Homo sapiens: one gene and its partners. The protein of the gene in region 2 interacts with the protein of the main gene of each other region in a pairwise test. Each region holds a gene or a part of one and is shown on either strand. Other genes may lie near its edges.

What was found.
Region 1: the proteins of EVX2 (region 2) and ITIH6 interact in binary tests that used the Homo sapiens proteins (3 or more experiments, as listed by UniProt).
Region 3: the proteins of EVX2 (region 2) and BPIFB3 interact in binary tests that used the Homo sapiens proteins (3 or more experiments, as listed by UniProt).
Region 4: the proteins of EVX2 (region 2) and ZMYND12 interact in binary tests that used the Homo sapiens proteins (3 or more experiments, as listed by UniProt).

What each region holds. Positions count from the first base shown.
Region 1 is NC_000023.11:54,767,247-54,774,271, reverse strand, and holds part of ITIH6 (inter-alpha-trypsin inhibitor heavy chain H6 precursor), read left to right. Parts: intron 1-74; coding exon 75-191; intron 192-7,025.
Region 2 is NC_000002.12:176,080,959-176,088,401, reverse strand, and holds the start of EVX2 (homeobox even-skipped homolog protein 2), read left to right. Parts: upstream 1-4,439; 5' UTR 4,440-4,625; coding exon 4,626-5,052; intron 5,053-5,952; coding exon 5,953-6,224; intron 6,225-7,443.
Region 3 is NC_000020.11:33,049,814-33,056,922, forward strand, and holds the start of BPIFB3 (BPI fold-containing family B member 3 precursor), read left to right. Parts: upstream 1-4,089; 5' UTR 4,090-4,152; intron 4,153-5,517; exon of another isoform or gene 5,518-5,608; 5' UTR 5,609-5,622; coding exon 5,623-5,734; intron 5,735-6,728; coding exon 6,729-6,885; intron 6,886-7,109.
Region 4 is NC_000001.11:42,432,011-42,439,035, reverse strand, and holds part of ZMYND12 (zinc finger MYND domain-containing protein 12), read left to right. Parts: intron 1-2,492; coding exon 2,493-2,615; intron 2,616-3,650; coding exon 3,651-3,762; intron 3,763-5,747; coding exon 5,748-5,893; intron 5,894-7,025. UniProt on the Homo sapiens protein: Required for sperm flagellum function and male fertility.

The DNA of each region.
Region 1 (7,025 bases), on a different chromosome or scaffold from region 2:
AAGAGGGGACCTGATTTAGATTGGCTTTCACTGTTCTTCTTGGTTCTACTTTTTTTTTTTTTTTTTTGGTCCAGATTTACGATGACTATTTCATTCACTACTTTGCCCCCAGAGGCCTTCCACCTATGGAGAAGAATGTGGTTTTTGTTATTGACGTAAGCAGCTCCATGTTTGGTACCAAGATGGAACAGGTAACAAGGATCCTGGAAACCTTTCTTAGTCCTAGTATCAGAAGACCCAGAAAGCAGAGAGCGTGGTAACAATGGGGCCCTGGGAGAAGAGATTCCACCATCCCATGACCCTTGAGTCTTACAGGCTTGGGCCTACCCTAGGGTCCTGGTATCTTACCTAACAGGAGCCTGTGGACCTGGAGCCACAGAGTCCTAAGAACATTGACACATTGGTCACTGTGAAACCATTGAGACCCTCAACCACGAAAGCCCAGGGTCATATAGGACCCTCAAGCTAGAGCACCCTGGGATCCTAGAATCCAAAAGCAAGAAAACCTTAGGTGAGAAAGACTCTGAGTCTTCCTGAGGCCACAAGGTTTTGGGTCTTTGTAATTTTTTTTTTTTTTACTTTAAAGGCCTAATAGTATAGAGTACTAGCATTATAGAATTAGAAACCATAGAGTCAGGAGTCATATCGATTTTAATCTTGTTGCACTTCTACCACTGTGCCCATGGGTCAGAGTTCTGAGGCCGTAGACCAAGCAGGCTTTGACTTTAGTCCCTGAATCCATAAAGTTCTGCAGGCAGCATTTCATACCATAATACCCTGGAGCTTTTTGTACCGGTGTCTTGCAGTTGTATAGCTTTGCTCCTTAATCTTTCAATCACAGAGCCTTTGGGACCTAAGGCTGAGTTTGTTTTACCAGAGTTGAGCAACCTGGGGAAAAATGGGTAATACCCCAAGCCAGCTCCCCAGCCCCAGTGTAGGGGGAGGGATCTCCCCAAATCCAGCCCTTTCTAGCCTTCTTGTCTCACTGAGGAGGGGTAAAAATCTCAGAAGTCCTTGTGAAGTTTCTATCTCAGGGACACCAATTCACTAAAAGATTGAGACCTCCTCATAAGAGTATAGAATGCTTCCTCTCACTCCACACATTATCACCACATCAACTGGGCTCCTCGGCAATAACGGAAAGTTACAGCTGATAGAACTACAAGCCCAAACCCTATTGAAGAAAATGTTCCTAGGGAAAACCAAAGACAACAGAAGCAACAAAAATACAGACACTAGAAGGGGAGCTGAGGTAGGTGGATCACTTGAGCCCAGGAGTTTGAGACCAGCCTGGGCAACATGGCAAAACCCTGTCTCTACTAAAAATACAAAAATTAGCCAGGTGTGGTGGTGCGCACCTGTAGTCCCAGCTACTCAGGAGGCTGCATTTGGAAAATGGCTTGAGCCCAGCGAGTGGAGCTTGCAGTGAACCAAGATCACACCACTGCTCTCAAGCTGGGGCAACACAGCAAGACCCTGTCAAAAAAATAGTAGTTTTAGCCTCTGACAACTAAAACTGCCCCAAACAAGAAACATTACCTAACTCATAGCCAGATAAACTTAAAACCCCACACTAAATGCCTTTTAGTTTATTTCCTTTTACCTGATACATCACGTCTGGCTTTCAACCTAAAATGAGAAGGCATGCTAAAAGGAGAAAAACACTGTCTGAAGAGAGTAAACAAACATCACAGCCAGACTTCAATATGTCAGATATGTCGAAATTATCAAACAATTTTATTTTTGATTGAAATTTTTTTTCCAACTTTTATTTTAGGTTCAGTGGATACATGAGCAGGTTTGTTACATGGGTAAATTTAGTATTGCAGGTTTTTGGTGTACAGATTATTTTGTCACCCAGGTAATAAGCACAGTATGTAATACATCATTTTTCAATCTTCACTCTTCTCCGAACTTCCACCCTCAAGTAGGCCCCAGTGTCTCTTGTCCCCTTCTTTGTGTACATGTGTGTTCAATGTTTAGCTCCCACTGATAAGTGAGAATATGTAGCATTGGTTTTCTGCTCTTGCATTAATTCACTTAGGATGATTGCCTCCAGTTCCCATCCCTGTTCCTGCAAAGGACAGGATTTCATTCTTTTTTATGGCTGCATAGTATTTCATGGTGTATATGTACCACATTTTCTTTATCCAGTCCACTATTGATGAGCATTTAGGTTGATTCCATGTCTTTGCTATTGTGAATTGTGCTGCAATGAACATACATGTGCATGAGTCTTTATGGTAGAACGACTTACATTCCTTTGGGTATATACCCAGTAATGAGTTTGCTGGGTCAAACGGTATTTCTGTTTTTAGATCTTTGAGGAATTGCCACACTGTCTTCCACAATGGTTGTACTAATTTACACTCCCACCAACAGTGTATAAGCGTTCCCTTTTCTCCACAACCTTGCCAGCATCTGTTGTTGTTGTTTTTTTTTAACTATTTAATAATAGCCATTCTGACTGGTGTAAGATGGTATCTCATTGTGGTTTTGATTTCCATTTCTCTAATGATCAGTGATGTTAAGCATTTTTTTCGTATGCTTGTTGTCTACATGTATGTCTTCTTTTCAGAAGTATCTGTTCATGTCCTTTGCCAATTTTTTAATGGGTCAAACCAAGAATTTAAAAACCCATGATTAATATGCTGTGGGCACTAATGGATAGAGTGCACCACATATAAGGACAACACATGGTAATGTAAGCAGAGACATGAAAACCCTAGGAAAATAAAAAGGAAATGCTGGATATCAGAAATACTGCAACAGGAATGAAGAATCCCTTTGATTCACTCATCAGTAGACTGGACATGGTTGGGTAAAGAACCAATGAGCTTGAAGATACGTTCATAGAAATTCCTGAAGCTAAAAAACAAAAATAAAAAGAATTTTAAGAAACACCCTAGAATATCCAAGAATTGTGGAACAATTTTAAAAGTGTTACATATGCATCATGGAAATAATAGAAGGAGAAGAAAGAGAGAAAGGAACAGAAGAAATACTTGAAGTAATAATAGATACAAATTTTCCAAAATAAATTATGCACACCAAACCTCAGGTCTAAGAAGCTTAGGAGAACACAAAGCAGGATAAATACTAAACAATCTACACCTAGGCATATCATATTCAGACAGCAGAAAAATCTTTTAAAAAGCCAGAGGAAAATGTACCTTACCTATAGAGGAGCAAGGATATAAACTATATCAGACTTTTCTTCAGAAACCATGGGAGCAAGAAGAAAGTGGAGTGAAATATTACAAGTGTTAAAGGAAAAAACCCACCAGCCTAGAATTCTGTATACATCAAAATTATTCTTCCAAAGTGAAAAAAAAATAAAGACTTTCTCAAACAAACAAAAATTTTGGGAATTGTCACCAATAAACCTGCTTTGCAAGAAATGTTAAAAGAAGTTCTACATAGAGGAAGAAAATGGTATATCTCAGATACTTGGATCTACATAAAGAAAGGAAAAGTGTTGGAGAAGGAATAAATGAAGGTAAAATAAAATAGTTTTCTTATTAACTGACCTAACAGATAATATTTTTTCAAAATAACAATGTATTTAGTGAATGTAGCTTAGGAATAAGTGAAATTAATGAGAGTAATATTGTATAGGATGGGAGGGAATAATTGGGAATACTCTGTTACAAGGTACTTGCACTATGCATAAAGCTGTATAGTGTTATTTGAAAGTGGATTTGGATTGGTTGTAAATGTATACTGCAAACTCTAAGGGAACTGCTAAAATTTTTTAAGTCTAATGCGTATGCTAAGAGATAAGATAAAACGGGATCATGTAAAATGCCCAGTTAAAACTAGAGAAGCCAAAAAATAAGTGGAAGACATAAGAGTAAAGAATTTTAAGGGGAGGAGCCAAGATGGCCGAATAGGAACAGCTCCGGTCTACAGCTCCCAGCGTGAGCGACGCATAAGACGGGTGATTTCTGCATTTCCATCTGAGGTACCGGGTTCATCTCACTAGGGAGTGCCAGACAGTGGGCGCAGGCCAGTGGGTGCGCGCACCATGCGCGAGCCGAAGCAGGGCGAGGCATTGCCTCACCTGGGAAGCGCAAGGGGACAGGGAGTTCCCTTTCCGAGTCAAAGAAAGGGGTGAGGGACGCACCTGAAAAATCGGGTCACTCCCACCCGAATATTGCGCTTTTCAGACCGGCTTAAAAAACGGCGCACCATGAGACTATATCCCACACCTGGCTCGGAGGGTCCTACGCCCACGGAATCTCGCTGATTGCTAGCACAGCAGTCTGAGATCAAACTGCAAGGCGGCAGCAAGGCTGGGGGAGGGGCGCCCGCCATTGCCCAGGCTTGCTTAGGTAAACAAAGCAGCCGGGAAGCTCGAACTGGGTGGAGCCCACCACAGCTCAAGGAGGCCTGCCTGCCTCTGTAGGCTCCACCTCTGGGGGCAGGGCACAGACAAACAAAAAGACAGCAGTAACCTCTGCAGACTTAAATGTCCCTGTCTGACAGCTTTGAAGAGAGCAGTGGTTCTCCCAGCACGCAGCTGGAGATCTGAGAACGGGCAGACTGCCTCCTCAAGTGGGTCCCTGACCCCTGACCCCCGAGCAGCCTAACTGGGAGGCACCCCCCAGCAGGGGCACACTGACACCTCACACGGCAGGGCATTCCAACAGACCTGCAGCTGAGGGTCCTGTCTGTTAGAAGGAAAACTAACAAACAGAAAGGACATCCACACTGAAAACCCATCTGTACATCACCATCATCAAAGACCAAAAGTAGATAAAACCACAAAGATGGGGAAAAAACAGAACAGAAAAACTGGAAATTCTAAAACGCAGAGTGCCTCTCCTCCTCCAAAGGAACGCAGTTCCTCACCAGCAACGGAACAAAGCTGGATGGAGAATGATTTTGACGAGCTGAGAGAAGAAGGCTTCAGACGATCAAATTACTCTGAGCTACGGGAGGACATTCAAACCAAAGGCAAAGAAGTTGAAAACTTTGAAAAAAATTTAGAAGAATGTATAACTAGAATAACCAATACAGAGAAGTGCTTAAAGGAGCTGATGGAGCTGAAAACCAAGGCTCGAGAACTACGTGAAGAATGCAGAAGCCTCAGGAGCCGATGCGATCAACTGGAAGAAAGGGTATCAGCAATGGAAGATGAAATGAATGAAATGAAGCGAGAAGGGAAGTTTAGAGACAAAAGAATAAAAAGAAATGAGCAAAGCCTCCAAGAAATATGGGACTATGTGAAAAGACCAAATCTACGTCTGATTGGTGTACCTGAAAGTGGTGGGGAGAATGGAATCAAGTTGGAAAACACTCTGCAGGATATTATCCAGGAGAACTTCCCCAATCTAGCAAGGCAGGACAACGTTCAGATTCAGGAAATACAGAGAACACCACAAAGATACTCCTCGAGAAGAGCAACTCCAAGACACATAATTGTCAGACTCACCAAAGTTGAAATGAAGGAAAAAATGTTAAGGGCAGCCAGAGAGAAAGGTCGGGTTACCCTCAAAGGGAAGCCCATCAGACTAACAGCGGATCTCTCGGCAGAAACCCTACAAGCCAGAAGAGAGTGGGGGCCAATATTCAACATTCTTAAAGAAAAGAATTTTCAACCCAGAATTTCATATCCAGCCAAACTAAGCTTCATATAAAATACTTTACAGACAAGCAAATGCTGACCGATTTTGTCACCACCAGGCCTGCCCTAAAAGAGCTCCTGAAGGAAGCACTAAACATGGAAAGGAACAACCGGTACCAGCCGCTGCAAAATCATGCCAAAATGTAAAGACCATCGAGACTAGGAAGAAACTGCATCAACTAACGAGCAAAATCACCAGCTAACATCATAATGACAGGATCAAATTCACACATAACAATATTAACTTTAAATGCAAATGGACTAAATTCTCCAATTAAAAGACACAGACTGGCAAGTTGGATAAAGAGTCAAGACCCATCAGTGTGCTGTATTCAGGAAACCCATCTCACGTGCAGAGACACACATAGGCTCAAAATAAAAGGATGGAGGAAGATCTACCAAGCAAATGGAAAACAAAAAAAGGCAGGGGTTGCAATCCTAGTCTCTGATAAAACAGACTTTAAACCAACAAAGATCAAAAGAGACAAAGAAGGCCATTACATAATGGTAAAGGGATCAATTCAACAAGAGGAGCTAACTATCCTAAATATATATGCACCCAATACAGGAGCACCCAGATTCATAAAGCATGTCCTGAGTGACCTACAAAGAGACTTAGACTCCCACACATTAATAATGGGAGATTTTAACACCCCACTGTCAACATTAGACAGATCAATGAGACAGAAAGTCAACAAGGATACCCAGGAATTGAACTCAGCTCTGCACCAAGCGGACCTAATAGACATCTACAGAACTCTCCACCCCAAATCAACAGAATATACATTTTTTTCAGCACCACACCACACCTATTCCAAAATTGACCACATAGTTGGAAGTAAAGCTCTCCTCAGCAAATGTAAAAGAACAGAAATTATAACAAACTATCTATCAGACCACAGTGCAATCAAACTAGAACTCAGGATTAAGAATCTCACTCAAAGCCGCTCAACTACATGGAAACTGAACAACCTGCTCCTGAATGACTACTGGGTGCATAACGAAATGAAGGCAGAAATAAAGATGTTCTTTGAAACCAACGAGAACAAAGACACAACATACCAGAATCTCTGGGACGCATTCAAAGCAGTGTGTAGAGGGAAATTTATAGCACTAAATGCCCACAAGAGAAAGCAGGAAAGATCCAAAATGGACACCCTAACATCACAATTAAAAGAACTAGAAAAGCAAGAGCAAACACATTCAAAAGCTAGCAGAAGGCAAGAAATAACTAAAATCAGAGCAGAACTGAAGGAAATAGAGACACAAAAAAACCCTTCAAAAAATCAATGAATCCAGGAGCTGGTTTTTTGAAAGGATCAACAAAACTGATAGACCGCTAGCAAGACTAATAAAGAAAAAAAGAGAGAAGAATCAAATAGACACAATAAAAAAT
Region 2 (7,443 bases):
AGGAAGAAAGTATCCCCCAACTCCCGCACCACGACCTTCCTCCGTGGGGCGCGGGATTGCGACGGGAGTGGGAGGAGGAAAGACAGAAGCAACCGGAGAGACCCGGAAGGGACAGAGAGCTAGAAGCTGGCCTGCCGAGGGCTCGAAATCTGAGTCTTCCCTTATGCAGCGAAACCTGCACCCGTGGAAACCGCACTTCGCCTGAAGACAGGGAGCCCGAGGCTCGAAGCCCAGGCTTTCGCGGTCCTACTGTCCCACTGCACCCTGCAGCCCCAGCTCTCGAGCAAGCATGCGTCCCAAGGCGGGACCGCAAGTTGTCGGCCCCAATTGCCCGCAGCCCCCCGCGTAAGAGGAGAGCCAGGCTCCGGCAGCGGCAGACGCGGGGCTTCGCTGCAGCTACGGCTTTACCGGCGCCCCTCCCCTCGGGCAGCCCGGACAGATTTTTATTACCTGCAGTCATAGGCCAAAAGTGTTTACCACTTCACCTCAGAGGACCCGCTGCTGCTCAAGAAACAAATATTTAGTCTGGAAACCTAACCAAAAAATTAGGCCTCTTCAAAGTCATTACTCCTTTAGAACAAAAAGGGCTTTTCAGTCCATGCGAAGGAAGTCCTTCCTGTACTCCCCACCCCATCTTAAAAATTTCTGCCAAAGCATGCGGGCTTGGGTTGGATTCTTGACTTGTTTTATCTAGTGGGTTCTGTACCTTGGTAGTGGGTAAGAGGCCTTGACGGTCACAGAGGCTGCATCAAACCACCCGGAACATTTGACAGGCCTGTTCCCAGCCTTGGCCTTCACATTCTGGGAGACGTGCAAGTTTGGGTATTTCATCAAAAAGCATCAACAGGGAGGGGCGCAGTGGCTCACGCCTATAATCCCAGCACTTTGGAAGGTCGAGACAGGCGGATCACCTGAGGTAGGAGTTCGAGACCAGCCCGGCCAACTTGGTGAAATCCTGTCTCTACTAAAACTACAAAAATTAGCCGGGCGTGGTGGCGTATGCCTGTAATCCCAGCTGCTCAGGAGGCTGAGGCAGGAAAATCGCTTGAACCCGGGAGGCGGAGGTTGCGGTGAGCTGAGATCTTGCCATTGCACTCCAGCCTGGGCAACGGTGTGAGACTCTGTCTCAAAAACAAACAGACAAACAAACAAACAAAACAAACAAAAACCACCACCAACAACAACTACAACAAAATACACACACAAATCAACAGAACTGCACTCTTCTTACTACCCTCTATATAGGTTCAATGTTTTTGAGGTAGGCCTGTATTTACATAAGGCATATGCAAAATGAGAGAATTAACCTAAAAAATGCTGCCCAAGGCTTTAAACAACACTTTTGACTTTATCATCGGAGATAAGTTTAAATCACAAGTCCCTGAACCCCTCTGGCTCATAATCTCTGGAAAAGGGATAATAGTTTAAATCTCACAGAGTTACTGTGAACCTTAGCTGAGATAACATGTAAAAAGCACTTGGAATTGCAAAGTAAGAGTTTTGTATAAGTTAGCCAATATTACTACTAGTGGGCGTGGAATCTCTAAATAAATTAAGGGACATTAAATATTGGAATGGAATGGTCACTGTACCTCATGAAACATTATTGCCTGCTACACCCAGTTTAGTGGAAACATTATAGGTGTCTTTTACTGTGAGTAGTTTCGCTGACATGTCTCTGACATGTTTTTTGTAATAAACGTGCTAGAAATGCACTATCAGTGTCATTTAAAAGGTGCAAAAATAGTTTTCAAAGCCACTAATGAATGAAGGTGCTGCTGAGAAATAGTGTTTTCCCTTTCGACAGACTGAGGTCCGGTTTGGCGCAGCCTTTGGGACCAGAGGCGTCGGGTCCCAGAGGAAGGGAAGATGTGGGAGAGCCTCGGGCTGAGTGATAGAGGAAGGGGTCGTCAGTCCTCACCTTAGTCCCCAGTGACTGCGTCTCCGACTTGAAAACCAACTCACAGCAGCCGAAACCGCGAGGAAAACAGATGGGGGCGCCAAACGACAGCAATAAAGGCATCCACGGATTTCCACCCAAGCAGTGCCTCGGTTCACCCACACTCCCGCCAGGGTCTCGCACCACTTCCCACCCCCACCACCCCAGCACGACCCGAGCCTGAACCAAGGTGTCCCATTCAGTCCCTGGAGCAAGCGAGGACTGGGTAGGGGGACCCTTCCTGGGTCACAGGAGCAGCGACTGCCAGGCATGGCAGAATTGGGCATCCGGGCTGCGGAGCAGGGAGGGAGCAGGTGGGGGCGTTGGCAGGGCTGGACTCCCACCGCGCTGATGGCCCCAAAGCCGGCGCAATGAGAACTCAGGGAGCTCGGAGCTGGGTGGCCAATGGGGCAGGGGCAGAGGTGGACGCTGGGTCAAGTCCCAGTCCCGGTGCGCTGGATGCCCACTCTGCGTTCCCCGCCGGTTCCCCGTTCCCCCAGGCACCGCCTGCCTATCGAGCTTTCCGTTTATTACCTTAAAGATGTGGAATTGATTTTCTAAGCAAAGCTCGCGTTGTTGAAATAAGTTGGCGCCGAGGGGAACAGAAGATAAACTTTTGGCATTGACTATATGTGTGTATATATGTATATAAATATACTTCACACCTCGCTTCCCCTTACATTCCTGATGCGCCCCCAACGGGTCTAAGGTTAAAAGGAAAGCGCCAAGAGCTATAGGCGAATAGATCTCGAGCTTGCCCCCTAACACACCCCAATGTTCTGGGTGTGTCGGCAGAAAGAAGAGGGGGCCCTGGTTGGGGTTCGGATTGAGGCTAAATGTGGGGATGCAGGACCCGCGCCCAGCGCCCAGATTGTCAGGGTCTCTCAGCCGCTTCAGAAGCTCACGGGCGGACCTCCGCGTCCCATCCCCGTCCTCCCTCGCCTCCGCCTGTGTCCGCGAATCTCTCTCCGGCTGGGCCGTTGGCGGGTGGGCACAGTGCTTGGAGGGTCAGGGAAGGGTGGGCGCAACCGCGGGAGATGAGGAGCGGCCTGGAGTGAAGATTGATCTTCGTTAAAATGGTTGCCACCGGCGTCATTATGACTATCAAAGTTGTCGCCAAGAGGCTCAGCCTCCAAGCCCAGGCCGCAGAGAGCTGCTGTAAGGCTGTTCGGCGACTCTCTGCGCCCGGACCCAACGCTGGGAATACCTGTGGCCGCAGGTAAGGGGCTGGGGTTGATGAGGGGAGGAAAGAGAGAAGGAAGAAAAGCAAAGGGGAAGGGAGGGCAGCGGGGAGGTAGGGGAAGAAGGCTGTCTCCTCTTTCCTCTTTTGACCTCGAAATCCAGCGCCTTTGCCGCAAATAATTCTATTTGAGGAGGGAGGGGAAAATCTGGCAACGTGAGCGTGGATTCGGAGCGCCCGTATGGCGCTGTAAATCTCCACTGTGTTTAAAGTTAGCTGTCGAATTCTGCTATCAAATCGTCCAGCCTAGTTCGTTTCCCCTCAGGAAAATGCGTAGGCGAGAAGGCTTTCTATCAGCAGGATTATAAAAGTAAAAAACCGGGGACTTCGAGTTCAGATCTCACTCTGCAGACGGTGTTAGAAAATCAGAGAGGACCTAATGATTTCCGTTTGGAGGCGCGGGCCCAATGCACCTCCGCGGCCACGTAGCAAGAAAGCGCTTTCAAAACTCTAGGATATTTCTATTTCTCTCTCTCTCTCTCTCTCTCTTTCTCTCACTCCGTCTCCCTCTCCCTTTCTCCCTCTCTCCCTCTCTCCCTCTCTTCCGCTCTCTCTCTCTCCCGGGGTGGGAGGAGAGCATTTAGGCTGAGGTGAAGAAATAGGGAGGGAAAGAACTCCGGCGTCCTATTTGTTAAATAAAATACATATTTGGTTCCGAAATCCGAAAGATAAGTAATCCAGATAGGAGAGGCGCAAGGTCTTCTCCTTACGCAACTCTTCCTGCATCCTCCCCCTTATCTCCCCCCACTTATGCCCCCAGCTTGTAAATGGTAAAAAAAAAAAAAAAAAAAAAAAAAAAAACCAAACCTTCCCGAGGACCTACTCTGGAAAGTCAAACCATTATCTATTATTTAATACGTATCTGTGTCCAAGGAAAAATGAAGAAGGCGCTGCATGATTAGGACCTAAGGGGCAACCTAGCAAACTGAGAGCGTAATGATGCCCCTAAATGAAGGGGGAAATGTGCCGCGGCGCGCTCTATTAATCAGACTGTCAATTTCACCCCCGAGGCCAAACCCCCGGGCGAGCAGAACTGGCTCGGAGCGGGCAAAGGACCGGAGCCTTCCTCCTCACTTGTCTCTTCTCGCCTCCTACCTGGATCTATTTGTCTGCTCTGAAGCTGCCTTCATTACCCACTGACAGGAGGGTGTATTTATTTGCTTATAAACCTGTTACAATAAATGATTATTCGAACAGCGTCATTCGTACCTTAATGACGAGCGGGCGCTACTTTTTGATGAATGACATCTCGGGATCGGAAGGATGTATGGGTCATTTTGACCAGTCATTCCCTCGCTCTGGCATCCCACAATTTTTCCGCCTCCCTCCGAAAGCGATAATAATATTTAGAGGCGTTCGCTGGGGCTGAATGAGAATTAGCCCTAGGCGCAGCCTATCATTAGGACGGGACAGCAGGGCCACTGTGACATTTTTAAGAAAGCTGAGATGATGGAAAGAATAAGAAAAGAGATGATTCTGATGGAGAGAGGGCTGCACAGCCCTACGGCGGGCAAGAGATTCTCCAATTTGTCCAACTCGGCTGGCAATGCTGTGCTCGAGGCCCTGGAAAATTCGCAGCACCCGGCTCGCCTAAGCCCGCGCCTGCCGTCTGCCCCCCTGCACAGCGCTCTGGGAGAACTCCCCGCCAAGGGCAAATTCGAAATAGACACTTTGTTCAACCTGCAGCACACGGGCAGCGAAAGCACCGTCTCCTCCGAAATCTCCTCCGCCGCCGAGAGCCGCAAGAAGCCGGGCCATTATTCAGAGGCGGCCGCTGAGGCCGACATGAGCAGCGACGTGGAGGTGGGCTGCTCCGCGCTTCGCTCCCCCGGGGGCCTCGGCGCCGCTCAGCTTAAGGAAAACAATGGCAAAGGTAACCGCGCCGGCCGCACCGCGCTCTCCAGTCCCATCCTCTTTGCTCCTCCGCGGCCCCCGCCAGCCTTTCCCGGTGCCTTTTCCCCTCTCAGACCCTCCACAGGCAAGCTACACCGAGCTAGCACGGGCGGGGGCGGGACGCATGTCTGGGACCGTGCCTTCCAGTTCTGCTCCTTGAGCTTTCCCGCCAGGCTCAGGCCTGCGGAGCCTGGAACACCAGGCCCACCCGCCCTCGCTCCTGAGTCCGAGAAAATGTTTCTGCGCTCGTGTCTAAGAGCCCGAGCGAGCCGGTAGACCCCTAGTCAGCAGCCGAGTTGCTTTTGGGAAAGGTACCCTGGGCAACTACTCTGAACTCCCCTGCCCCTGTGCCCTCAGGGCTGGAGGGGGCATTCTTCTGGGTAAGTCGGAGGAAGCCTCGCCGGCGTCTCTGTTTAGGTCAGCGGGAGAAAGAGTTGAAAAGTATATTTCACCCCCTATTGGCTTGGGTTTGAGCTACTGCTGTGTTGGAACTCTTAAAATATTTGAAACCCCGAAGACTCAGATAAAGGTTAGAGGCCGTATAAAAAGCTGCCCTGCGGTCTCCAGACCATGGGAAACCCAGAGCTTCCCAAACTGCGCCCAGAGGTAGGCATTTTCCCTCGGCCACTTTTCCTCCTTGGTTGAAAATTTCTAATTATTAAAAAAGAAATCTCCTAATTCCGTTTCTATTATTTGCTTATGAAGGGCTCCCCAAACTTTATTGATTCCATTAACGGCAGCAATTTGTAAGCATGACAGACCCCATCAATTCCGGCAGCGACTCTCCTTCCTGACGGGGCTTCCCCGATCCGCGCGCAGCGCCAGCGCCGGGCTGTTGGTCCTACAGCCACTCATGCGCTGTTGGTCGTTTGTTTGCCAGGGTACGCAGAGAGCGGCTCGGCTGCCGGCACCACGACGTCGGCGTCGGGCTCAGGCCTCGGAAGCCTGCATGGAGGCAGCGGAGGCAGCGGCGGGAGCGCGGCGCTGGGTGGCTCCGGCTCTGGCGCGGATCAAGTGCGGCGCTACCGTACGGCGTTCACCCGCGAGCAGATCGCGCGCCTGGAGAAGGAGTTCTACCGGGAGAACTATGTGTCGCGGCCCCGCCGGTGCGAGCTGGCCGCGGCACTCAACCTGCCCGAAACCACCATCAAGGTATCAATTCCAGTGCATGCCTGCTCTGGCCTCCCCGGGGGCATCTGGGTTGATTGTTTCTTTTTCCCCTTTCCCCTTTCTGGGTGGCTAGATTTAGCTAAGGGTCTGGAAATCCGCGGGGGGTAGTCACCAAAGGAATTGGCTTATTTATTTCCCGGCCACCGAATCCGAACGGTTGTCCGGCCTGACGGATCTAAGAAGGCCCCCGAATGGTGACTCCAATGCTGAAAGCACTCGCCCCTGCTCCATTGTGCCCAACGCCTGGCCAGATGCCCCCTCGCCCATACCCACGGCCCCACTTTCCCCTAGGCGGCAAGCCCAGTTGGTCTTTGTTCCTCAAGCAGGAACCAGAGGTGAAACTTTTCATTTGCTCTTGAGCTTGGAGATTTATTTTCCGCATAAATCGTTACACGGAGAAAAGGATACTGTATCTTTAAAATCGATTGGTTTGAGACAGTAGTTTCCTGAACATTTTCCTCTTGGGCAACGAAAAAAGGGCAACCTCCTGCGGGGAAAAATGCAACGAAATTGTCCTTATTTATATATAACTTTAGGTTATTAATTTTATTATACGTCTGGGAGAGATAGCCGGGAGGTTAGGCGATTTGGTGAGCCCTTCATGGAGCGTTCGACACTGCAGAAAAAAGAAAAAATCTCCACGGGGTAGGGGAGGAGTGTGGAAGTCTCCCTCTGGTTTGATCGGGCTTTCTTTAATTTAGAGTTGTGACGAATGATGTCTTTATTAGATAGTGTTGGGAGGGGTGGAAACGTCCCCTTCCCCGTTTATGGAGACATTGCTCTACCCACTCATTTAAGGCAAACGATTCCAACAAAATCATCCCTTCAATATCAAAATCGGACCCGTGCCCCTAGGGGCAGGTCCTTGCAGTTCGGAGGGCTCAAGACTTCGCGCGGCGACCTCTCAGAAAAGCTGAGCGGCAGCCTCTCTTCAAAGGCTGCCCAGAATCCCCGTACAAATCCTGGGATTGAGAGACGGGTGCTCAGCGAGACCGGCACTGGTGGGTGGCGGGAGGGAGAGGAAAGGTTGGATTGGGACAAAAAAGTGCAGCAAGAAGTAAGGGAATAAAAGCCTGAGGAGCAGCAGCAGCCGGACGCGGGGGAGAGGACCCTCTTCGTTGAGGACGGTGTGCCCACGGCGGTCCACACACTGCCGTCCACACTTTCCCAGCTGGGAGACCACAGGGTACTCGGGGTTGGG
Region 3 (7,109 bases), on a different chromosome or scaffold from region 2:
ACCCCCCGGGACCTGTCAGACAGCCTCACCCTGGGAAAATGAAGCCACACGATGTTCCCCACACCTGTGTTCATACCAGTACCCACTTACCTTGCCTTCTCCCTTCTCAGCCCACTCTCAGCTCGAGTAGCATGGGGAGGCCTCCCAGGGATCTCACCACCATCTGCACCCTTGGCCCCCCTCCCTTGATGCCTTAAATTTCATTTCTAGGATACCTGTCCTCACAGCCATACCAATTAGGTGAGGAGGGCCACCTTTAATATGAGCCCATTTTGCAGATGGGAGAACTGTGGCTCTGTGAGTTAAGTCACTCAATTGTGAGTGACAGAGCCAGAATGTGGACCCAGAAATTTTGGCTCCAGAGCCTTTACTCTAGGAACTAATGCCCAGGGGTATTTCTCCTCATCAAGTCCCTCCCCTGCTCTAATCCCTTCCTTGGCTTCCCATCACCCTCACCAGGGATATCAAAAGGGCTGCACATCATATTGCCTTGGGGGCTTGTTAAACGTCCCCCTAGGTGCTTGTCAGTGGAATCAGTGTTGCCAAAGGTGAGGCCAAGAGATATGTATTTTAATGAATCCCTTCCCGTGGGCAGGCCCAATCCCTGACCTGGCTTTGGTGCATGAGGGGATATGGGGACGCCTGGGGAGCTTATGGGTGTGTCAGAGTCCCCTGTTGGGTGGGGATCGGGAAGGAGGAGGAGAGACGAAGCAGGCCAGAAACAACTAGGTAGCATTTTCCTCTCTTCCAAGAGGCTAGGCTGGGCAGTGGTTAAGACAATGAGTGTTAGACGGTCTGGCTGGACTCCTGTGTGACATCCGGCAAGCTGCTTACCCTTGCTGAGCCTTGGCTTCTTGAGTGTAAGAAGAGGAAATAATAACAGCACTGATCTCACTGGGTCTTTGTGGTGACTAGATGTGCTCACATACAGCAGGTGCCTTGTACACGGTATGTGCCGAATAAATACTAGTGTTAGTTTTCTTTCCTCTTCCTTCAAACAAATGCCTTAAAAACACTGGGGATACCCAGCACAGATGAGGCTGTGGAGTAGCAGCATTGACCACGTGCAATGGCATAATGCTCAGGGGAACCATAGCCATAGAGAGTATGGCTAAACATGCGCATGCATGCTGTGCTCCAGCAATTCAGCTCCTTGTTATTTACCCAAAAGAAATGAAGAATAAAAACATAGGCCCAAGCTGGGTGGTGGCTCATGCCTGTATTCCCAGCACTTTGGGAGGCTGAGGTGGGAGGATCACTTGAGGTCACGAGTTCGAGACCAGCCTGGCCAACATAGTGAAACTCCGTCTCTATGAAAAATACAAAAATTAGCCAGGTGTGGTGGCAGGTGCCTGTAATCCCAGCTACTCAGGAGGCTCAGTCAGGACAATTGCTTGAGCCCAGGAGGCAGAGGTTGCAGTGAGCTGAGATCACACCACTGCACTCCAGCCTGGGTGACAGAGCAAGACTCTGTCTCAAAGAAAAAAAAATGTCCACAAACAAGAGTGTTCATAGTAGCTTCATTCATAATAGCCAACACCTGGAAAGCCCAGGCACCACTGGACAGGAAAATGGATAAGCAAACTGTAGGGATTCGCATAATTGAGTAGTACACAGCAAAGAAGACCCAGTCACTGCCTCACACAATGGGAGCAGGGAAGCCACGCACATAAAGCACACAGCGGTTGCACTTAGTGACCCCCAGGAGCATGCTGGACTCAGCACTGAGTTAGCGGTCAGGACAGTGGTCACCACCAGGAGGGCAGTGACTTGGAGGGGACACAAAGAGGGCTTTGAGAGGGCTCCATTTGTAAAAATTCATCACACTGTATACTTGTGATCTGTGCCCCTTTTTGTGTACATGGTTTAGATTTTAGTAAAAAGTTTATCTTTTAAAAAAGTGTGGTGTGGTTGAGTAACCTGGTCCAGGGCCTAAAGTCATCAGAATGAACATTGTAGGGTGAGGGCTTTAGAGATGATTGAGGTAAACAAGGCAAATGCCATCCTTCTTCCCCATCTTAGCAGGCAGAGGTTCAGGGCCCCACGCAGGAGACAGACCCACAGACTCACAGAGCCACAGACACAGTGACAGCTTGGCATGTCACAGATTCTGAGAGAGGAAATCCCAGGGGACTGTGGGAGCTCAGAGGTGATACCTCATGCAGCTTGGGGCTCATGAAGGCTTCCTGGAGGAAGGGATGCCTGAGCTGGTGCCTTCAGAGGAATTGCCAATGAAAGCCAAAGTCTGTAAATCCATACAGTAGCTTCCAGGGCTTCATCACACATTGTTTACCACCTATCTCTCACTCCCCTCCAATCACATGGCCCCCCTGCTGTTCCTGGAACACCACCCTAGGCCTTTGTGTGGGGGTCCCTCTGGTCAGCAGGCTCTTCCCAGACAGCCATCTGACTCCTTCCCTCTTCTCCTTCTGGTCAAAAGTCACCCCTGCTTCAATATGAGGCCTTCCCTGACCACGCTATTGAAAATGGCACCCACTCCCCACACTCCTGAGCCCCTTCCCTGCTTTATTTTTGTTGTTAGCTTCCGACTTACTGTATTTTTTTTGAGATGGAGTCTCACTCTGTCGCCCAGGCTGGAGTGCAGTGAGGCAATTTTGGCTCGTTGCAACCTTCATCTCCCAGGTTCAAGTGATTTTCCTGCCTCAGCTTCCCAAGTAGCTGGGATTACAAGCATGCGCCACCAAGCCTGGCTAATTTGTGTGTGTGTGTGTGTGTATATATATATATATATATATATATATATATATATATAATTTTTTTTTTATTTTTTTTGAGGCAGAGTCCCTCACTGTCACCCAGGCTGGAGTGTGATCTCAGCTCACTGCAAGCTCCGCCTCCTGGGTTCACGCCATTCTCCTCTCTCAGCCTCCCAAATAGCTGGGACTACAGGCTCCTGCCACCACACCCAGCTAATTTTTGTATTTTTAGTAGAGACGGAGTTTCACCATGTTGGTCAGGTTGGTCTTGAACTCCTGACCTTGTGATCTGCCTGCCTCGGCCTCCCAAAGTGCTGGGTTTACAGGCGTGAGCCACCGCGCCCAGCCCCAACTTACTGTATTATGTGCTTATTTGTCCCTTTCAGAGCTGTGCTTTCCAATATGACAGCCAATAGCCATACAAGGCGATTGCCTGAAGTGCGACAAGTCCAAATCTTGGTGTGCTGTAAGCAGATTTTGAAAACTTAGTATGAGAAAAAGAAAGTAAAGTACCCCATTCATAATTTTCTGTTGGTTATATGTTAAATGAGAATATTTTGGATTTGGTGGGGGTAAATAAACTAGACTATTATAATTAATTTCACCTGTTTCTTTTTGCCTTTCAAAAAATGTGGCTACTAGAAAGTTTTAAATTGCATTGCATTTCCACTAGTCGGCTCCTTCAGGGCAGGGGAGATTGTCTCTTTTATTTACAGCGATTTCCCCAGCATCTAGCAGACAGTGGGTGCCTCACAAATGCCTGCAGTGGAGTGAATGAATGGACGCATTTCTCGTCGCTGTCATCTGCACCAGCCTCGGAAAGGGGACAAAGCTCTGGAACTCTGGGGATACTGAGCCTTGGGAGGTGGGGGTGGAGTTGATGCCCCTCCCCCAAGTGTGCCCAGAGTCCCTGTCTCCAGGCCCATAGCCCTCTCCATGTGAGGCCTGGTGCGGGGGGAGGGTGGCGGAAGGTAGAAGACCCAGCAGCTTTAAGTCCCTTCTTTCCCTCCGTAGGCCTTCGCTGGGGAAGGGGTGGGGTAGGCAGGGTAGATTCTGTGCCATTGGAATGGCTCTTGGGGAGCCTTGGAGGGAGCCCAATAGGTGGCTGAATGGGTAGGTGGCAGGGCCCCACACCTCACCCCTGGCTCTGAGGGAGGTGGCTGCCTGTGCAGCCCCCACGCCTTCACTCCCACTCCTGGGCACCGACCCCAGTCCCCTTACTCGCCTCCAAGGAGGAAGGCTTAGCCCAGGCCCTCGGGGAAAACCGCAATTTGCTTCTGACATGACATATTGACGGGATTCTGGCGGCCGTGGCCCCTTTGTGTCCTCAGAGCCGCGTGGGCATATAAGGGCCACCCCTCAGCTCGCGTGGGTGGAGGAACCGACAGGAGGCCGGGAGCCCCCACCTACCCCTTGTGGAGCTGCAGGAGCAAGGGTAAGACAGCCTGAGGCAGCCCTGCTCTTGTCCTGACGCCCAGCCGTTGACCCCACTGCCTTCTGCCCTCCCATATGAATGATGGGCACGGAAAGAACTCACCCTAGGAGGAGACTGGGGGTACCAAGAGGGTGGATGAAGAGAAAAACCATGTTACAGATCTGGGGCCCAGAGAGAGGCAAAGACTTGTATATATTCACAGCCGGAGGGGTGGGCAGGGGATCCCTGTCCATAGGATGATCCTATGGAGAGAGTTCCAGGAGTGCCCATTTTTCTCCTGGCCAGTGACATGCTGCTGAATTTCTATCCCCTGCCCCCTCAGCAGGGACCCCTTCTGACACACAACCACGCACAGAGGCCTTAGACATGGTCCCTGCCTTCATGGAGTTTACAGGGAAGAGAAATAAGGACACAAACAGATGCATAATTGCAAATGGAGATCAGCACCTTAAAGTAAATATTCTGCGTGATGTTTAGTGACAGACGGATTTCTTTAGACAAAGTGAAGGACGGAGGCCTCTCCAGGGAGGCAATGTTTATCCGGAATCTCAATGATAAGGAGTCAGCCATGCAAAGAAGCAGGGAGGAGCCTTCCTAACAAGGAACCGCATGTGCAAAGGCCCTGGGGTGGGAAGGGGCCTGGCATGTTTAAGCTCAAGGAGGTCAAAAAGGCAGGCAGGGATTTTGTGGGTAATGGCAAGAAGCCTGGGTTTCAACCCAGGGCAGCGGGGAGCCACTGAAGGGTTTAAGCAGGAGTGATGGGTGGGCATAGATGGATATGTGATTGGGTGGGCAAATACGGAACTGCTTAAAGAAAAATCCCACTCTGTGAACTTAGCAGATTAGCCATGCCCCCACCTGCCACCCCATTCCCTTTTTCAACAAGATTTGGGGTGGAGGTGGGGGAAGGAGAAAGATAAGACATGTTAAGTCTAAGTGTTGGGTGTCCCCAGTCAGCTAGACCTTCTGAAACAGCCTCATGAGCCAGTGGGAAGCAGCTGCTGGAAACAAAGCTCTCATCCTGCTGTCCTGGAGGGGGAAGCCCCTCTGTCTGCAGCTGTCACTCCAGACACCCGGCCAGGCTCACTGGGCCTCTGAGGATGAAGATTTTTATGTCAGATGGACTCAGGCTTGAATTCTGACTGTCTCTGATTAGTTCTGTGGCCTTGGTCTAGTCCCCTACCCCTTTCGGTCTCAGTTTTCCCAGCTGAGAAATGGAACCCAATGAGGGAGAGGCTTGGAAAGTGCCTTGGAGACTTGAGTGCATTGGCAGCTGCACCGTGCCACCTGCGTGTTAGCTCTGCTTACATTTGGGAGGAGAAGGCTTTCCTGGGAGTGAAGCTCAATTTGGGCTGTGCCAGGTGGGCAGGAAGGGGGAAGGCTGATAATGGGAACAGAGAGGGGAAAGGCTTGAGCAGGAGAAGGGTCTCAGAGTTCCTCCTTCTGCTCCTTATAGGCATGCAGCCAGTCATGCTGGCCCTGTGGTCCCTGCTTCTGCTCTGGGGCCTGGCGACTCCATGCCAGGAGCTGCTAGAGACGGTGGGCACGCTCGCTCGGATTGACAAGGATGAACTCGGCAAAGGTGAGCCCCAGGTGGGCAGTCTGTGAGGGGGCTGCTGCAATGTCAACGACTCAATCTATATGCTTAGAGCATCTGCTTTAAGAGCAGATAAGAGCAGGTTGTGATTCTCAGCTGCTTAGAGAGCACATTCTCCTGGGAGTAGCTGTGCAGGAGTGAAAGTTTCCCTTGCAGGCTTGAATGGGCGATGAATTCCCTCTTACGGGAGGTGGACTGGGTGATATGGGCTGAGGCTGTTTGGGGACTGTGTGTGGCTCAGGGACAGGGACAGAGTGAGGTTGAAGAGGTCGAGGGGAGGGTGCTAGCTGGGCCAGTGTCTCTGCCTCACATCACTAGGGTAAGGGAACTGTACTTGGCATTTGGTACTACAGAGCCCGGTGGCCTGTGGTGACAGTCTCAGGGATAGAGTAGATTGGTCATGAGCAGGAAATGCTTCAGAGAGGCCCCCTGGCCTGCCTCTACTCTACAGGGCCATTCCTCCATCCTGCCCTTCCCACAGTCTGCACAGAGTCAGGCCTGGAGTGCCCAGGAGAGAAGCAGAGACCATCTCCTCCAACTTGATTGAGCCCTGGTGGCTACAAGCTCCCCCTTCTTTGCCCTCCCTTTCAGTGCTGTAGGGCAGTCCAGGATCAGGAGCCAAGTTACACTACTGACCCCAACCCAATTTGCTGTGTGACTTTGGACACGTCTCTGCCCCTCTCTGAGCCTCAGTTTTCCCACTGGTAAAATGAAGGGATTGTTATGAGATTTGCTCATTCATTCTCCAAACACTTACTGGGTACCTCCCACATGCCAGGCAGGGAGGGTGGCCACAGGCCCTGCGGTGGGAGTAAGAGGCTGTTATGGCTTAGTGGGTTCCACCATTTGAGTGTAACCTCTGGGTTAATTCCATTTTTAAAAAGAAGCCTACTCAATCTCAGAGGAAGGAGGCAGCTGCCATGGTCCTGGGGGTGAGGTTGGAGTTTCTAGTACCTTCCTACTTCCACTCTCTCTGCAGCCATCCAGAACTCACTGGTTGGGGAGCCCATTCTGCAGAATGTGCTGGGATCGGTCACAGCTGTGAACCGGGGCCTCTTGGGCTCAGGAGGGCTGCTTGGAGGAGGCGGCTTGCTGGGCCACGGAGGGGTTTTTGGCGTTGTCGAGGAGCTCTCTGGGTGAGTCCCACCTGCTGCATGCCCTACAGGAAGACTTGGCTTTGCTTCCAGGAATTGAGGAGAGATTGTCTCTTTGTAATTTGTCCAATAGGCAGTGAAGGTTGTGTGGGAGGGTTGTGATCCGGGTCTAAAAATGATGACTCTACTGCATGCCTGGCAGGACAAGAACAGCAGAATGCCACTGTGGTTGAGGGTTCCAGCTCTGGGGTCAACACTAGTTACTC
Region 4 (7,025 bases), on a different chromosome or scaffold from region 2:
AGAGCTAGATGTATAAGAAAGCACTTATCGATGATAAAACTCTGTACAAAGTTAGATGGGATGTTGAGGATGATAACTGAATTGTTCTTTCAAAATTTAAGGGGTTTCTATTAGGATTTCAGTACTGGAAAATATTACCAGAGAAAAGAGTTCCTGGGCGTGAAATCTGAGTTAGCGTAGAGTCAGACTGCAGTCTCCATGCAGGTTGGTTCTCTCTTCAGCCTCTCTTCTGGCCTCTGCACCAAGCAGCCCTTCCTCTGGTTGCCCGCCTGTACAATGCCCGTAAATTAAATTTTACGCTGGTTATTCTTTAAATTCCACTAACCCATATCCATTCTCTGCCCTACTCTATGCCCTGGGAGCCTGACCTCTATGGACTACACAACCTCTATGGACTCCATTGCTCTCTGGCCTTGGTTGGGTTTGGAGAGTGGAAGGCATAGTAGGGGAGTGGAGAGTAGGAGGAGAAAAAGGCTGGGGTACTGATTCTCTCTGCTGCCTCTCTGCCCCACCCCTGATCTGTCAGGAACAGTGTTCCTCTGTGGCCACAGCTCCTGTCAGGCAGCCTTCTTCCATAGTGCTAGCTCTTGCTGGGCCCTGGTAACCTTGTTTCCTCCCCTTGCTGTTTCAGGTGTAGGGATGGTAATAGTTTCTTGCTGTTGGTAGTCCCTGGTGTTTCACTAGGCTTTGTTGGTTTTACTCGTAGGGCTTTTCCCTAGCCCTTGTTGGTTTCTTAACCCTTCTACATGTCAAGTAATAATTCCACTAAACTATCTTCAGGCAATCTTATTGAGGGTGCCATCTAGTTCCACCTGGGCTCCTGACTAATACAATTCTTTGTGTTTCCTCTCTATACTCTACATCCTCCAACAAATTAAGCAGAGGCACATTCTGTCCTGAGCTGGGCCACACAGTTAAGAATTAGTAGGCCAGGTGTGGTGGCTCACGCCTGTAATCCCAGCACTTTGGGAGGCTGAGGCAGGCAGATCATGAGGTCAGGAGTTCGAGACCAGCCTGACCAATATGGTGAAACCCCGTCTCTATGAAAAATACAAAAATTAGCTGGGCGCAGTGGCTCACGCCTGTAATCCCAGCACTCTGGGAGGCCGAGATGGGCGGATCACCAGAGGTCAGGAGTTCTAGATCAGCCTGACTAACATGGTGAAACCCCGTCTAAATATACAAAATTAGCTGGGTGTGGTGGCATGTGCCTGTAATTCCAGCTACTTGGGAGGCTGAGGCAGGAGAATTGCTTGAACCTGGGAGGCAGAGGTTGCAGTGAGCCAGGATTGCGCCACTGCACTCCAGCCTGGGCGACAGAGTGAGACTCAGTCTCCAAAAAAAAAAATATGAAAATTAGCCAGGTGTGGTGGTGTGTGCCTGTCATGCCAGCCGCTCGGAAGGCTGAGGCAAAAGAATCACTTGAACCCGGGAGGCGAGGTTGCAGTGAGCCAAGATCGCACCACTGCACTCCAGCCTGGGCGACAGAGGGAGACTCTGTCTTTAAAAAAAAAAAAAATTAGCACAAGCTCAGATTCCTTAGCCTAGCTTTTTAAACACACACACACACACACACACACACACACACACACACAGAGCTTTATTGATATATACCATAAAATTCACCCATTTTACGTGTACAATTAAATTATTTTTAGCAAATTTACAGAGTAGCGCAACCATTAGCACAATCAAGTTTCAGAACATTTCCATTACCCCAAAGAGATCCCTTGTATCCATGCGCAGTCATTTCCCATTCCTGTTCCAGCCCCAGCAACCACTTCCTGTTTCTACAAATTTGCCTTCTCAGGACAGTTCATACAGACAGCATCATGTGTGGTCCTTTGCATCTGACCTCTTTCACCTAGGGTGATTATTTTGAGATTCATCCATGTTGTTGCATGTATCAACAGTTCATTCCTCTTATTGCTGATTAGCATTCCATTGCCTGGATATACTACAATTTGTCTATCCATTTATCAGTTGATGGACATTTTGGTTGTTTCTATGTTTTGTGTATTTTAAATAATGCTGATATAAACATTTACGTACAAGTCTTTGTGGGTAGGTACTTAGAAGAGGAATTTCTGGGTCATGTAGTAACTCTATGTTTAACTTTTTAAGGAACTACCAAACTGTTTCCACAGAGGCTGCACCCTTTTACATTCCCATTGGCAATGTGTGAGGGTTTCATTTTCTCCATATCCTTCCCAACACTTTTTATTTTCTGTATTTGATTCTAGCCATCCTAGATGCAGTGATATTTCATTATAGCTTTGTTTTGCATTTACCTAATTACTATGTTAGTATCTATACATGTGCTTATTATTCATCTGAATATCTTTTTGGAGAAATGTCAATTCAGATCTTTTGCCCATTTTTAAATTGGAATGTTGTAACAGTTTTTTGTATGTATTCTAGATACAAGTCCTTTATCAGATATATGATTTGCAAAAGGAACTCAAGCACTCTCCTTCTTCCTTCTGCTATAGATTTATTTTGCCAGTTGTGCATTTGGAACAGAGGACATTAGGACTTCAGGAGGCTACTTCCACCTGGCTAATATATTCTATGACCTTAAAAAGTTGGACCTGGCAGACACATTGTACACCAAGGTGAGCTGGGGAATGTGGGAGCTGAGCCTTCACTCTTAGGCTTGGTGTCTTACAACTTGTATTAGACTATTCATGAAAAACATACCATTCATGAGAAAGAGAGGCACAGAGAGATGAAGTGGCTTGCCCAAGACTATATAGCCTGATACATGATATACTCCATTTTCTTTCTTCCAGTGTCTCCACTACCAAAATAGACTAACCCTTAACATCCGTAGGGTGATTAACGAATAATGAAGGACAGGTCAGTAAGAGCCAAACCCCTTCAGATAGACTGTTGTATGCTGTGTCATACCCATAGCAGCAAGCTAATGTGGGCTTATTGAAGTGTGCGATAGAGAAGGAGATTTCCAAGGGAAGTCTGTTGCTACAAGATCCTGTCAAGGGATCCAAGAACATGAGAAATTTCCATATTTACATGTAAAATATTTTAAACTGTTTCCAATATATTAAAATGTCAGCTGTATCCATATAGTAACACCTCACTTAGCAGGCAATCATTTGTGTAATAAATGTGTAATACAGGCTTTCTGCTGATTGTTGATTCATGTTTTAGACCTGCTTCTGAGAAAGAGGCATTTTGCTGTAGTTTAAAAGCTTTAGAATCAGATAGACCAGGGTTTAAATTCTGGCTATGCCACTTAACAGCTCTTACCAGAAGTCGTGTGTGATCTTCTCTGAGCCTCGGTTTATTTACATGTAAAATGGGAATAATAAGAATATTACATCAGGATGTTGTGAGGATGTGAAGGTTTCGTGTTGTGTGTGCTATACAAAAGATAACCACTGTTATTAGACCCCACTAGGGCTACCCCAAGATGAGCTGCCACAGGCCCTTTTCAGCCCATCACTTGTCACACTTACCTTGGCCAGGCCTGTTTGGGCTCCTAGGGTTCCCTCTGCCTCCAGGCACAGTAAGAGAGAGAACCTCCAGGTTGTCCAGAAGCCCGGCCAAATGCGCTACTCTCCTCACCTGCCTGGTCCGACGGCTGAGGTCTGGCCTGCTTGTTGTATTACCATCTCTTTTCCCAACAGGTCTCTGAGATCTGGCATGCATATTTGAACAATCACTATCAAGTCCTCTCACAGGCTCACATCCAACAAATGGATTTACTGGGCAAACTATTTGAGAATGACACTGGCTTGGGTAAGTGGCAGTTTTCCCTGAAGGGAGAGCAGTGACTTCATCTCACCCAATACACAGACCTTGTCCCTAAGAGGGAAAGCAGCTGTCCCTGTCATGAAGCACACCATTGCCACCTTCCCCATGTTGCTGATGGAGAAAACTGAGACACGGGGATCAAAGAGATTTTACCAGTGTTGGGAAGAATTCAGATCCCTATCATCACACATAGCCATTCGGGGGTTACTAAGGGACAGATTTAGAGGGAAAAAAAGACCACATCAAAGCCCCCTGTGATTTCTGCAGAGCATCCATTTCTATGTTATCCCTCCAGGGCAGCAGTCCCAATCTCTCCCTGGCACCAGGGACCCGTTTCATGGAAGACAATTTTTCCATGGACTGGGGGGCGTGGGAGGAATGGTTTCAGGAGAATTCAAGTGCATTACATTTATTGTGTACTATGTTTTTATTATTATTAATATATTGTAATATATAATGAAATAATTATACCATGCATCATAATGTAGAATCAGTGGGAGCCCTGAGCTTGTTTTCCTGCAACTAGATGGTCCCATCTGGGAGTGATGGGTGACAGTGACAGATCATCAGGCATTAGATTCTCATAAGGAGTGTACATCCTAGATCCTTTGCATGCACAGTTCACAATAGGGTTCACGCTCCTAAGAGAATCTGATGCTGCTGCTGAACTGACAGGAGGTGGAGCTCAGGTGGTAATGCAAGCAATGGGGAGTGGCTGTAAATACAGATGAAGCTTTACTCGCCCCTACCACCCCTGCTCACCACCTGCTGTGCAGCCCGATTCCTAACAGGCCACAAAACAGTTCTGGTCCATGGCCTGGGGGTTGGGGACTCTTGCTCCAGGACACGTAAGCCAAGGTAGACTCTACACAGAAGGTGCATTGCTGATTTCTTCTGGTGCCTTAACTTCATGCTTTACTGAACAGTGAGCTTCTCAGTGGCAGGGCCCAGTTGGATTAAACTGTATTCCCCGGGCCAGCAAAGGGCTAAGTGTTGAATAGTACCGTACAGCATCATGCCCTCAGAGACAATGAAAAGACACAGAGGATCTAGTTTCTGCTCAAAAGAGACATACAGTGCAGTTGGTGATATAGAACCTATAGGCAATAACAAAAGAACATTCCTGTGAGTACAAATTATGTTACAAGATGAGTCCCAGAATGAAGAGGTGAGGACAGCTGGGTGGTGTTGAAGAAGGAAGACTCTTTGGAGGAGAGGTTTTGAGCTAAAGTTTAAAAAATTAATAACTTTATTGAATTTTCTCTCATTATGTAAATAGTTCATGTTATAGCTGAAAACTTGGAAATCATAGATATCCAAAGATAGCCAACCTTAACATGATGGTGTATATCCTTTTCGTCTTTTTCTCTAAGCTTAGTACTTGTATAAGTGCTTTTAAATGCATGTAGTGACTTCTCAGTAAATGATGACTAAAGTAGGACCAAAAACTACTGGGGAAAATAGTAAACAGACTCTCAGAGGGAAGCATGAAGGTTGTTGCTTACGCATCTATGGCCTAGACGAGAAGAGTTAAGCTGCTGCAGCTGCAAGAAGTCCCTTCCCCCAGTTCTCTCCTCTCAGCTGTAGAGTGGAATCTGAGTTGGACCCAAGGAATCTGCCTGTGGCAGATTATCTGTGTTTGTAAGCCCAAGAGATCTAGAGTTCAGGACTCCGAAAGAGAGAAACCTTAGCAACTTTGGGACCTGTGGGAGTGAGCCTATTTTTAGGCTACTCTGATAATGGCATGCTAAGCAAAGCTGGAAAGCGGTCTGAAACTCCTGCTTCGGAGCTTCCTGCTTTGCACCTGGAGGGAGTCCTCTAGGTAAAAAACTTGCTGTAATTGGTGCTATTTCCACCAGTGCCCTTGGGAAGGCTTCAGCAGACCAGGCGCTTTAACAGCTGAGTGCTTTTGATGAGGGCAGACTCAGTTGCCAAGAGCCTGTTTTTTCTTTCTTCCCCTTCCAATGCAGATGAAGCCCAAGAAGCAGAAGCCATTCGCATCCTGACTTCAATCTTGAACATTCGAGAATCTACATCTGACAAAGCCCCCCAAAAAACCATCTTTGTTCTGAAGATCCTGGTCATGTTTTACTACCTGATGATGAATTCTTCAAAGGCAAGTTTCCCTAAAAAAGCAACACGTCTAAAATGAAGGTAGAAATTCAACTAGTTGAACTCAAAATTTGTGTTTTGCCCAATTCCAATAGCTTTTGCCCTCAGAGCAAGCCCTCACTCCAAAGAGGTTCAGATGCTCACGATGTTTCTCCTGTGTTGAGTCTAGCCTGCATAATGGAAATTGGATTGTCTTCTTCCCCCGAGGGTTCCCAGTCTTGCATAGATAAAGAGAGTCTGAGGCAGTGCTGGGAAGCCTGCAGGGCAGGAAGGCTCTGGGGAGCCTTGGATGGATGAAGTAGCCGCTCTAACTCCACTCAGTTACTGAGTTCCCTGTTGCTGCGGGGATTCAGGCAGAAATGCATTGCCATGAAATGATTCAAAAAGTAACTTTTTGAGTACTTTTACCTACCAGTTATTGGCCTAAACCCTTTACATAATTATCATACTTAATGCTTACACCAACATTAATGAGGTAGCTATTTTATTATCTCTACTTTACAAACAAGGAAACTGAGGCACCGAGAGGGTCAATTCTTTGCCCAATGTCTTACAGACAGCAAGTAGCATATCTCAGGTTTATTGACTTATTGGTTGATTCTCTCATTCATTCAAACATTTATTGAAAATCTACCATTTGTAAAGCACTAATCTAGGGACTGGGGATACAGTGGTGATCCATACGTTTCCTATCTCTATGGCACTGGTGTTTTTTGGAGGAGTGGAAATAAACATATGTATGTGTAATATAATTTCAGATAGTAGAAACTGTTATAAAGAAAACTAGCCAGGCACAGTGTCTCATGACTGTATTCCCAGTACTTTGGGAGGCTGAGGAGGGATGATTGCTTATGTCCCGGAGTTCAAGACCAGCCTGGGCAACATAATGAGACCCACTCTCTACTAAAAATAAAAATAAAAAGATCAGCCGGGCTAGAGGTGTGCACATGTAGTCCCAGCCACTCGGGAGGCTGAGATAAGAGGATTACTTGAGCCCAGGAGATTGAGGCTGCAGTGAGCCGTGCTTGTGCCTCTGCACTCTAGCCTGGGTGACAGAGCAAGATCCTGTCTCAAAAAAAAAAAAAAGAAAAAGAAAAAGAAAAGAAGAAGAAGAAGAAGAAAAAGCAGTTGGCAGG